Linked DNA regions of Homo sapiens. The protein of the gene in region 1 interacts with the protein of each later gene in a biochemical or structural test. Each region holds a gene or a part of one and is shown in the gene's direction. Other genes may lie near its edges.

What was found. The genes of interacting proteins can lie anywhere in the genome.
Region 2: of the proteins of FBXW2 (region 1) and SKP2, one has a biochemical effect on the other in vitro, tested with the Homo sapiens proteins (one study listed by BioGRID).

What each region holds. Positions count from the first base shown.
Region 1 is NC_000009.12:120,786,860-120,790,517, reverse strand, and holds part of FBXW2 (F-box/WD repeat-containing protein 2), read left to right. Parts: intron 1-2,239; coding exon of another isoform or gene 2,240-2,259; coding exon 2,260-2,749; intron 2,750-3,658. UniProt on the Homo sapiens protein: Substrate-recognition component of the SCF (SKP1-CUL1-F-box protein)-type E3 ubiquitin ligase complex.
Region 2 is NC_000005.10:36,172,517-36,176,174, forward strand, and holds part of SKP2 (S-phase kinase-associated protein 2), read left to right. Parts: intron 1-3,658. UniProt on the Homo sapiens protein: Substrate recognition component of a SCF (SKP1-CUL1-F-box protein) E3 ubiquitin-protein ligase complex which mediates the ubiquitination and subsequent proteasomal degradation of target proteins involved in cell cycle progression, signal transduction and transcription.

The sequences.
Region 1 (3,658 bases):
AGGTGTGTGGTTTTTTTTCTTTTTTTTCTTTTTTGAGATGGAGTCTTGCTCTCTCGCCCCGGCTGGAGTGCAGTGGCGTGATCTCGGCTCACTGCAAGCTCCGCCTCCTGGGTTCACGCCATTCTCCTGCCTCAGCCTCCCGACTAGCTGGGACTACAGGCACCCACCACCATGCCAGGGGAATTTTTTGTATTTTTAGTAGAGATGGGGTTTCACTGTGTTAGCCAGGATGATCTCGATCTCCTGACCTCGTGATCCGGCCGAGCCCACCTCAGTCTCACAAAGTGCTGTGATTACAGGCGTGAGCCACTGTGCCCAGCCTGGTGTGTGTTTTTAATTGACCAGTATTAATTAACTAGCTATTGTGACAATATGCAGATGCCCACAGAAGATAATTGCTTTGTCTTGTTGCAAATTATTATTTTTTAGAAGTAGAGATTTTGAAGAAATGTTGTATAGATAAGAGGGTTGTTAGGATTTAGAGGAAGGAGGGGGCTTGTTATTGCGTGATAAGTCGATAAAACTTTTAGCCATCTGATTATTTTTTGTCAGCTAGGTAAATTTTTAATACAGATTAATAAATCTTCTCTAGCCCAAACTTTGGCTTGAAACGTATTATCTTGAAGTCTAGTCACAGTTCCAGAAATCAAAACTGTTAGCAGATGATGTGATTGCAAGGTTTGGTTGCTTCTACTAATAAATCAGATTGCTTATTTGTCTAAGAATGTTATTGCCAAATTTGATATTGGACACTTACAATTTTACTCACCTTACATTATCAAAGTTGAAAGATGAGATCTTGCTTTTTGTGTAGACCTGATCTAGGTGATATGTCTGGAAAGAAATTAACTTTCCTTTTTCACATTAATTTGGACATATGTTTTTAAAATTAATATGACAGTCTTGTGAGAAACTGAGTATTCAGAAGGAAAGTTTTTATTAAACCATGGAAATATTTAAATATATGGAAATAAAGAGAATAATAAATCCCTATGTACACATCACCCAGCATTAACATCTATCAACACATAGTCTTGAGAAAGATAGTTTTTACTGGTTATATTTTTTGTAATCTTTCATTAGTCTAATCCTCATTAAGAGTGAATTAACACCTGTTGACACTAATACAGGATACTTTAAAAAAAATTATTTGTTACAGTTAGCTCAGGAGCAATTTGTCATTCTCCTAAAGGAGAAAATGGTCTAACGGGTAGACACACTACCTCCAGATCTTACCACTTGGTCGTGGTTCTCCTGGTTGTCACTTATTTTAGAGAGAGAGCTTGGTACCTGATCTTGAGAGCACTGGCGTCCAGTCTGTTCTGTGGCTATTTAGTAGCCCTGTGAATATAGGCAAATCACATACCTTCTCTAACCTGTAGTTTCCTCATTTGCAAAGTGAAGATGATAATGTCTATTTTCTGGTGTTTTATAAACATCAGGATTATTAATTTGCTTTATTTGTGCAGGCCTCCAGGACCCCTCATGGCTCTCGGGGGCACGTGGTTAAGAGTTGTCACTAGCTCATATGAGGTTTAGAAAAACAGACTAAAGCCACATAAGTTCTTTTATAATTCATGTTCTAAACAGGCAGTGCCATAAAGAAGTTGGAAGAACCAGAATTCCTGAGGCAGATAACTTACCACACCTGCTTTTCTTCCCTAAACCTTTTCATCTGAACATCTGTTGCAAAACCAAGTAGTCAGTTCTATGATTTTGGTGACAGGTTGTGCCTGCCATGACAATCAGTGTCTCAGGTTACTGCTCAGGAGACTGTTTCTGATTGTCACATCCTGGTGCTTGCTTTTGTGATTTTAGTACCCAAATAGAATGTATTAAGGAATTCATTAAGGAAATTGTTTTATAATGGTTTTGATGGGGGAAGGGTGTATTGTAAAATATACTGTTTTATAATGAATTGTTGGTAAATCTATTACTATGAAGATGCATGTAGCACGTGCTAGACTTCAAGAGGAATAAGTCACACACGCCAGTCTGTTTCACTGACATGTTTTGGATTCATGATTTGTTAAAGTATGTTTTCTCAAATGTGTTTTCTTTTGTGTGCATGGAAAGTGTTCAGATAAATATGGTGTATTAACTGTAAAGTTGTAATGTAACTACGCATAAAGTTGTAATGGCAGATTTTTTACACTAATTTTTAATACTTCATTTGTTAGCAGTCTTGCTTGAACAGTCTTTTTGAGCAGAACTAATACAATATTTTGATGTGCCACAGGTAAATTTTTCCATAACCTTATGGAGAGAAAGGACTTTGAGACATGGCTTGATAACATTTCTGTTACATTTCTTTCTCTGACGGACTTGCAGAAAAATGAAACTCTGGATCACCTGATTAGTCTGAGTGGGGCAGTCCAGCTCAGGCATCTCTCCAATAACCTAGAGACTCTCCTCAAGCGGGACTTCCTCAAACTCCTTCCCCTGGAGCTCAGTTTTTATTTGTTAAAATGGCTCGATCCTCAGACTTTACTCACATGCTGCCTCGTCTCTAAACAGTGGAATAAGGTGATAAGTGCCTGTACAGAGGTGTGGCAGACTGCATGTAAAAATTTGGGCTGGCAGATAGATGATTCTGTTCAGGACGCTTTGCACTGGAAGAAGGTTTATTTGAAGGCTATTTTGAGAATGAAGCAACTGGAGGACCATGAAGCCTTTGAAACCTCGTCATTAATTGGACACAGTGCCAGAGTGTATGCACTTTACTACAAAGATGGACTTCTCTGTACAGGTAAGAGATGTTGAAACTGCTTTTTGGGTTTTGTTTTGTATTTCATAGGGTGTAATCTTGAACCAGTCTTGAGCTTTGAGAATGACAAGTGTTGATTATATGAGATATGTACAGTGACTTTTTTTCTCTAATCCTGAGTGGTTCCCCCCCCTTATCCTCTTCCTTCTCTCTAGAGAACACAATCATTTTTATAAAATTTTATGAGAAAAACACTTCAGACTGTCTTTTAAACATTATGTGAATTACAAAGCTATAGATTACTTTTTCTTTGTGTTTCCTCCATGTGTAGTCCTCTGTTGCTAAATTCTGTTTCTTTTTCTGTTGGCACTGATATTTGAGGAAAAAAACAGTGGAAAAATTGGTATCTAATCCTAGCAAGTAGTTAGATCATTATGGCCAAATTACTTAACCTCTCTGTATCTTTAAAATATGGGAAAGGAGGTCGGGCGCAGTGGCTCATGCCTGTAATTCTAGCACTTTGGGAAGCCGAGGCGGGTGGATTGCCTGAGCTCAGGAGTTCGAGACCAGACTGGTCAACATGGTGAAATCCCGTCTCTACTGAAATACGAAAAAGTAGCCGGGCGTGGCGGCATGCGCCTATAATCCCAGCTACTCGGGAGGCTGAAACAGGAGAATCGCTTGAACCCGGGAGGCGGAGGTTCCAGTGAGCTGAGATGGTGCCACTGCACTCCAGCCTGGGTGACAGAGTGAGACTCCATCTCAAAATAAATATATATGTATATATGAAAGGAGATATTTCTTCCTTGCTCTGAAATCCTGTGATTCTAAGTAGAAGAAGTAGAAGTTGGAGTTTGGGCCTGGGAACAGAGAGAGCTGGATATTTTTTAACTAGGCAATTAAGTAATTTTATGAAACAATATAATTATTAAAAATTTAAAATTATATGTT
Region 2 (3,658 bases), on another chromosome or scaffold:
TTTGTGGGCTCTACAAAACCTAGTTAAACCAGCAACACACATCAACCATATCTTGATGTTAGTACTAGCTTATTTGAGTGTGTTTTGTTTATTATAGTTTTTATTATTCTGAAAAAGATTTGAATCAAACATCTGCAGAATAGATCTTAAAATTTAAGTAGTATAAAACTACTGCTCCAGGACAGATGTCCTCTGGTAAGATGTATAAAGCTATAGAAAATAATTGCTAGGATCTCATGAGTGGGTAGAAATTCGAGTCTTTCACCTGTGCAAGGACTCAAATTTGGACTACTGCCATTCCAAACACTTGCATTTTCAGACAAGGTGAACACTTTCTTTAGCAAGCTGTAAAAGCAGCAATCATGTCTTCATTTCATACCACTCTCCCCACCCAGTATTTATAATTACTATTTTAAAACTGATCATAGTGTTATACAGTCATTTAAAAAAAATGTAAAATACAGAAAAACACAAAGGGAAGCAAATTATCAATAATCTTAACATCTTGCTAGGCTTTTTCCTGTACAAAAACTGTTTTTTTTTTTAATGGGACATGGTATATTAAATACTTCGTAATATGCTTTTTAACCCCATTTTCAGTGACTACATGATGTCATCATCAGTGGCTATGTGATAGTCCATCAAATAGATATGCAATAATTTATATTAAGTCAATAACAATATATGCAGTTGATCAGAATTCTAATGGACTTTCAGAATCTTCCCAGTTTTTCTCTCCTATAAACAATTTTATGAGTGACAGAGACAAATCTTTAGATGCATTTCTAAGGATAGATTCTTAAAAGTGGAATTGCTGGGTCCAGCATTAAGTACTATTCTCAAGTTTTGGATAGTTTCTGCCAAATTTTCCTCCAAGAAGTTTAAACTCTTCACCCACGAGCATCCTCTTAGTGTGAAATCCCATCACTCTTGGTTCTTCTCTGTCTGCAGGTGAAGGGAAGGCAGTGCCTTGTTTATATTTCTTTCCCACATCTGGATCTTTCACTGGTTTACTGAAAGATTTTCTGACATGAATCGAGGCTCTGGGTGCAAGGTTGAGAAACTGCTGTAGGCAAAGTGCTGTTGGTTTTGTCCAAATTTGGCTTAAAATCTTTCCCTTTGTTCCTCCAAGAAAGAACAGAGAGCCTGTTTACCGAGTTTTGGCAGAAATAGTAGGTATTAAAATGCTGCTTGCTAGACACATTCAGGACAGAGAGACAGACTGTAAATTGAAGTGTTAGTTTTTTAATTATACCATGGGGATAAAAAGTTTTTAATGTCATTAACAATAGCACACACCATTTCATTATATATGAGATAATATGGATTTGGTTTTAGCTCATAGACTGGTACCAGATGGCCTGGGTTCAAATATCCACTCTGCCATTTACTGGGTAGACTTGAGCAAGTTGCTAAACTTGCCTGTTCCTTAGTTTTCTCAGCAGTAAAATGGAGATAAGTAGAACCCATCTCTTAGAGTTACAGGAAAGAATAAATGAGTTAAGACATGTACAGCATGTGGAACATTTCTTGCCACATGGTAAGAGTTCAATTAGTGTTGGCTGTTAATACTGTTCCTTCCCCCACTACCCCCATCACTACCTTTCCATGGAGCAATGGATGAAGCACAGAAACATTTGGTCTTGGATTTGACCTTGACTTCTGTAGCTGAAATCATCTCTCCTTTGAAGTAACGGGTTGGATTAACGGGTGGTTTCTAAGATCCTTCTAGCTCAGGTTGGGTCTACTGTTTATGGTGAAATGAAGGGGACAGTGAAAAGGAAACCTTGGCAGTGACTACTGTTTACTAACTACTTCCTGCCCAGGGAGGACAGAGCTTAAGTGTGGGCCAGAGGAAACTAACCCTTTATCCCCCAATGTTTCGTTCTTTCTCCAGTGGTGTCAAAGTATGATTGCATCAGATTTTGCTGATGGCTAGTTGGCTGGCTAGATGATTGGTCCCTCAAAATTTTATTGTGTACTTTTTTCATTTTTTGGTCATTTATTAAATATTTATTGAGCACCTACAGTGATTGAACAAAACAGAGCCTTGAACAAAACAGAGAAAGTCACTCTTATGAAGATTACTTTCTAGTGGGGGAGCCAGAAAGTGAACATATTTCATAAATGTTATGAAAGGAGGTAAAAATGCAAGGACGAAGAGCAAAGCAGAGTAACCAGATAGAATGTGGCAGAAAGAGGACTACTTTTAGATGGAATGGTTAAAGACAGGGCCTCTCTGAGGAGACTGTACTGGACCCAGAGAACTGACTGAGTGAAGAAGGAATCCATATGCATATGTGAGAGAAGAACATTCAAGAACAAAGGACCAGTGAGTGCAAATACCTTGATATGGAACCAATGTGTGAGAGGGAGCAGGGAGAACAGTGAGAGGAGAAAGATGGCCAAGGGCTGTCTAAGCCAAGGCAAAAGCTTTGAATTTTTCCTAAGTGACATGGGATATGGGAAGCCATTGGAGTATTTCGAGCAGAGCAATATGACTGACTTCATTTTAAAAGACTCACGCTAGTGCTGTGTTGAGAAAAGGCTGTAGCGGGGAAGTATGAAGCAGGGAGACCAGTTAGCAGACTAGGCTGGTGACACTTAAGGTGGTAAGAAATGATCAGATTTGGGCACATTTTAAAAACCAACATCATGAGATTTGGTGACACAATGAACGTGGGATGTGAGAAAAATAGTCCACTATGATTTCAAGGGTTTTGGCTGAAGCCACTGGATTCGTGAAATTATCACTTGCTGAGATGGGAAAGAGTTTAGGGAAGGAGGAAATTTGGGGGAGAAATTGAGTATTTGATTTTAGACATAAATTTAGAGGCCTATCTCATATCCAAACGGTATGTTGAGGAGGCAGTTGAAAATGCAAGTCCAGAATTTAGGAGAGGGGATATACTTGTGAGACGAAAAAACCCTCAAATGTTAATGAAGTTTGCCTGTTGTTCTAAATAAGTAACATTTATTGATTCATTTTCTGATTGCCAAGTAGCTTACATGACTTTCTTCCAAATTCTGAAAAGTTGCCTGTAATCCAAACACCCTTGAATACTGCAGTTAACATTTTGGATGTATTTCCTTGCAGCCTTTTTTTTTTCTTCTCTCTTTCTTTCTGTGTATGTGTTTGTGTGTAAATGTGAGTTTGAGTGTGTTTTGACCAAGTTGAAATTATAACGCATTGTATATATTTTGTTTACAAGCTATCCTAGTATTTTTTTAAATGTATGAAATGTTATCAGAAAGCGTTTTCATAATGATTAGCAGTGTATTTCACGGAATGGATGAGGTTAACATATTAAACTAACTGGAGGAGGGGCTAATATAACTGTTGCCACATTGAATATATTCATACACATCTATATTTTTCTAAAAGTGGAATTACTGGGCCAAAAGTAAACTGTATAATTCTCTGAATTCTTTAAAAAAAAAAGAAAATCAGTTCACTATCCAAAAAAAGCAGGAATCAGTTCACTATCCAAAAAACGCAGGGTTCAGGCTCCTGAAAGCCTGCAAATAAAATTAAATATCTACCTGTGGTACATGGAAGACCTACTTTATGGTAGACCTACTTTATAATAGAATTTTTTTTCACTTGATGGCTGAGAAGAAATATTTCTAATTTTATTTGGTATTTCTTGCTCCTTTT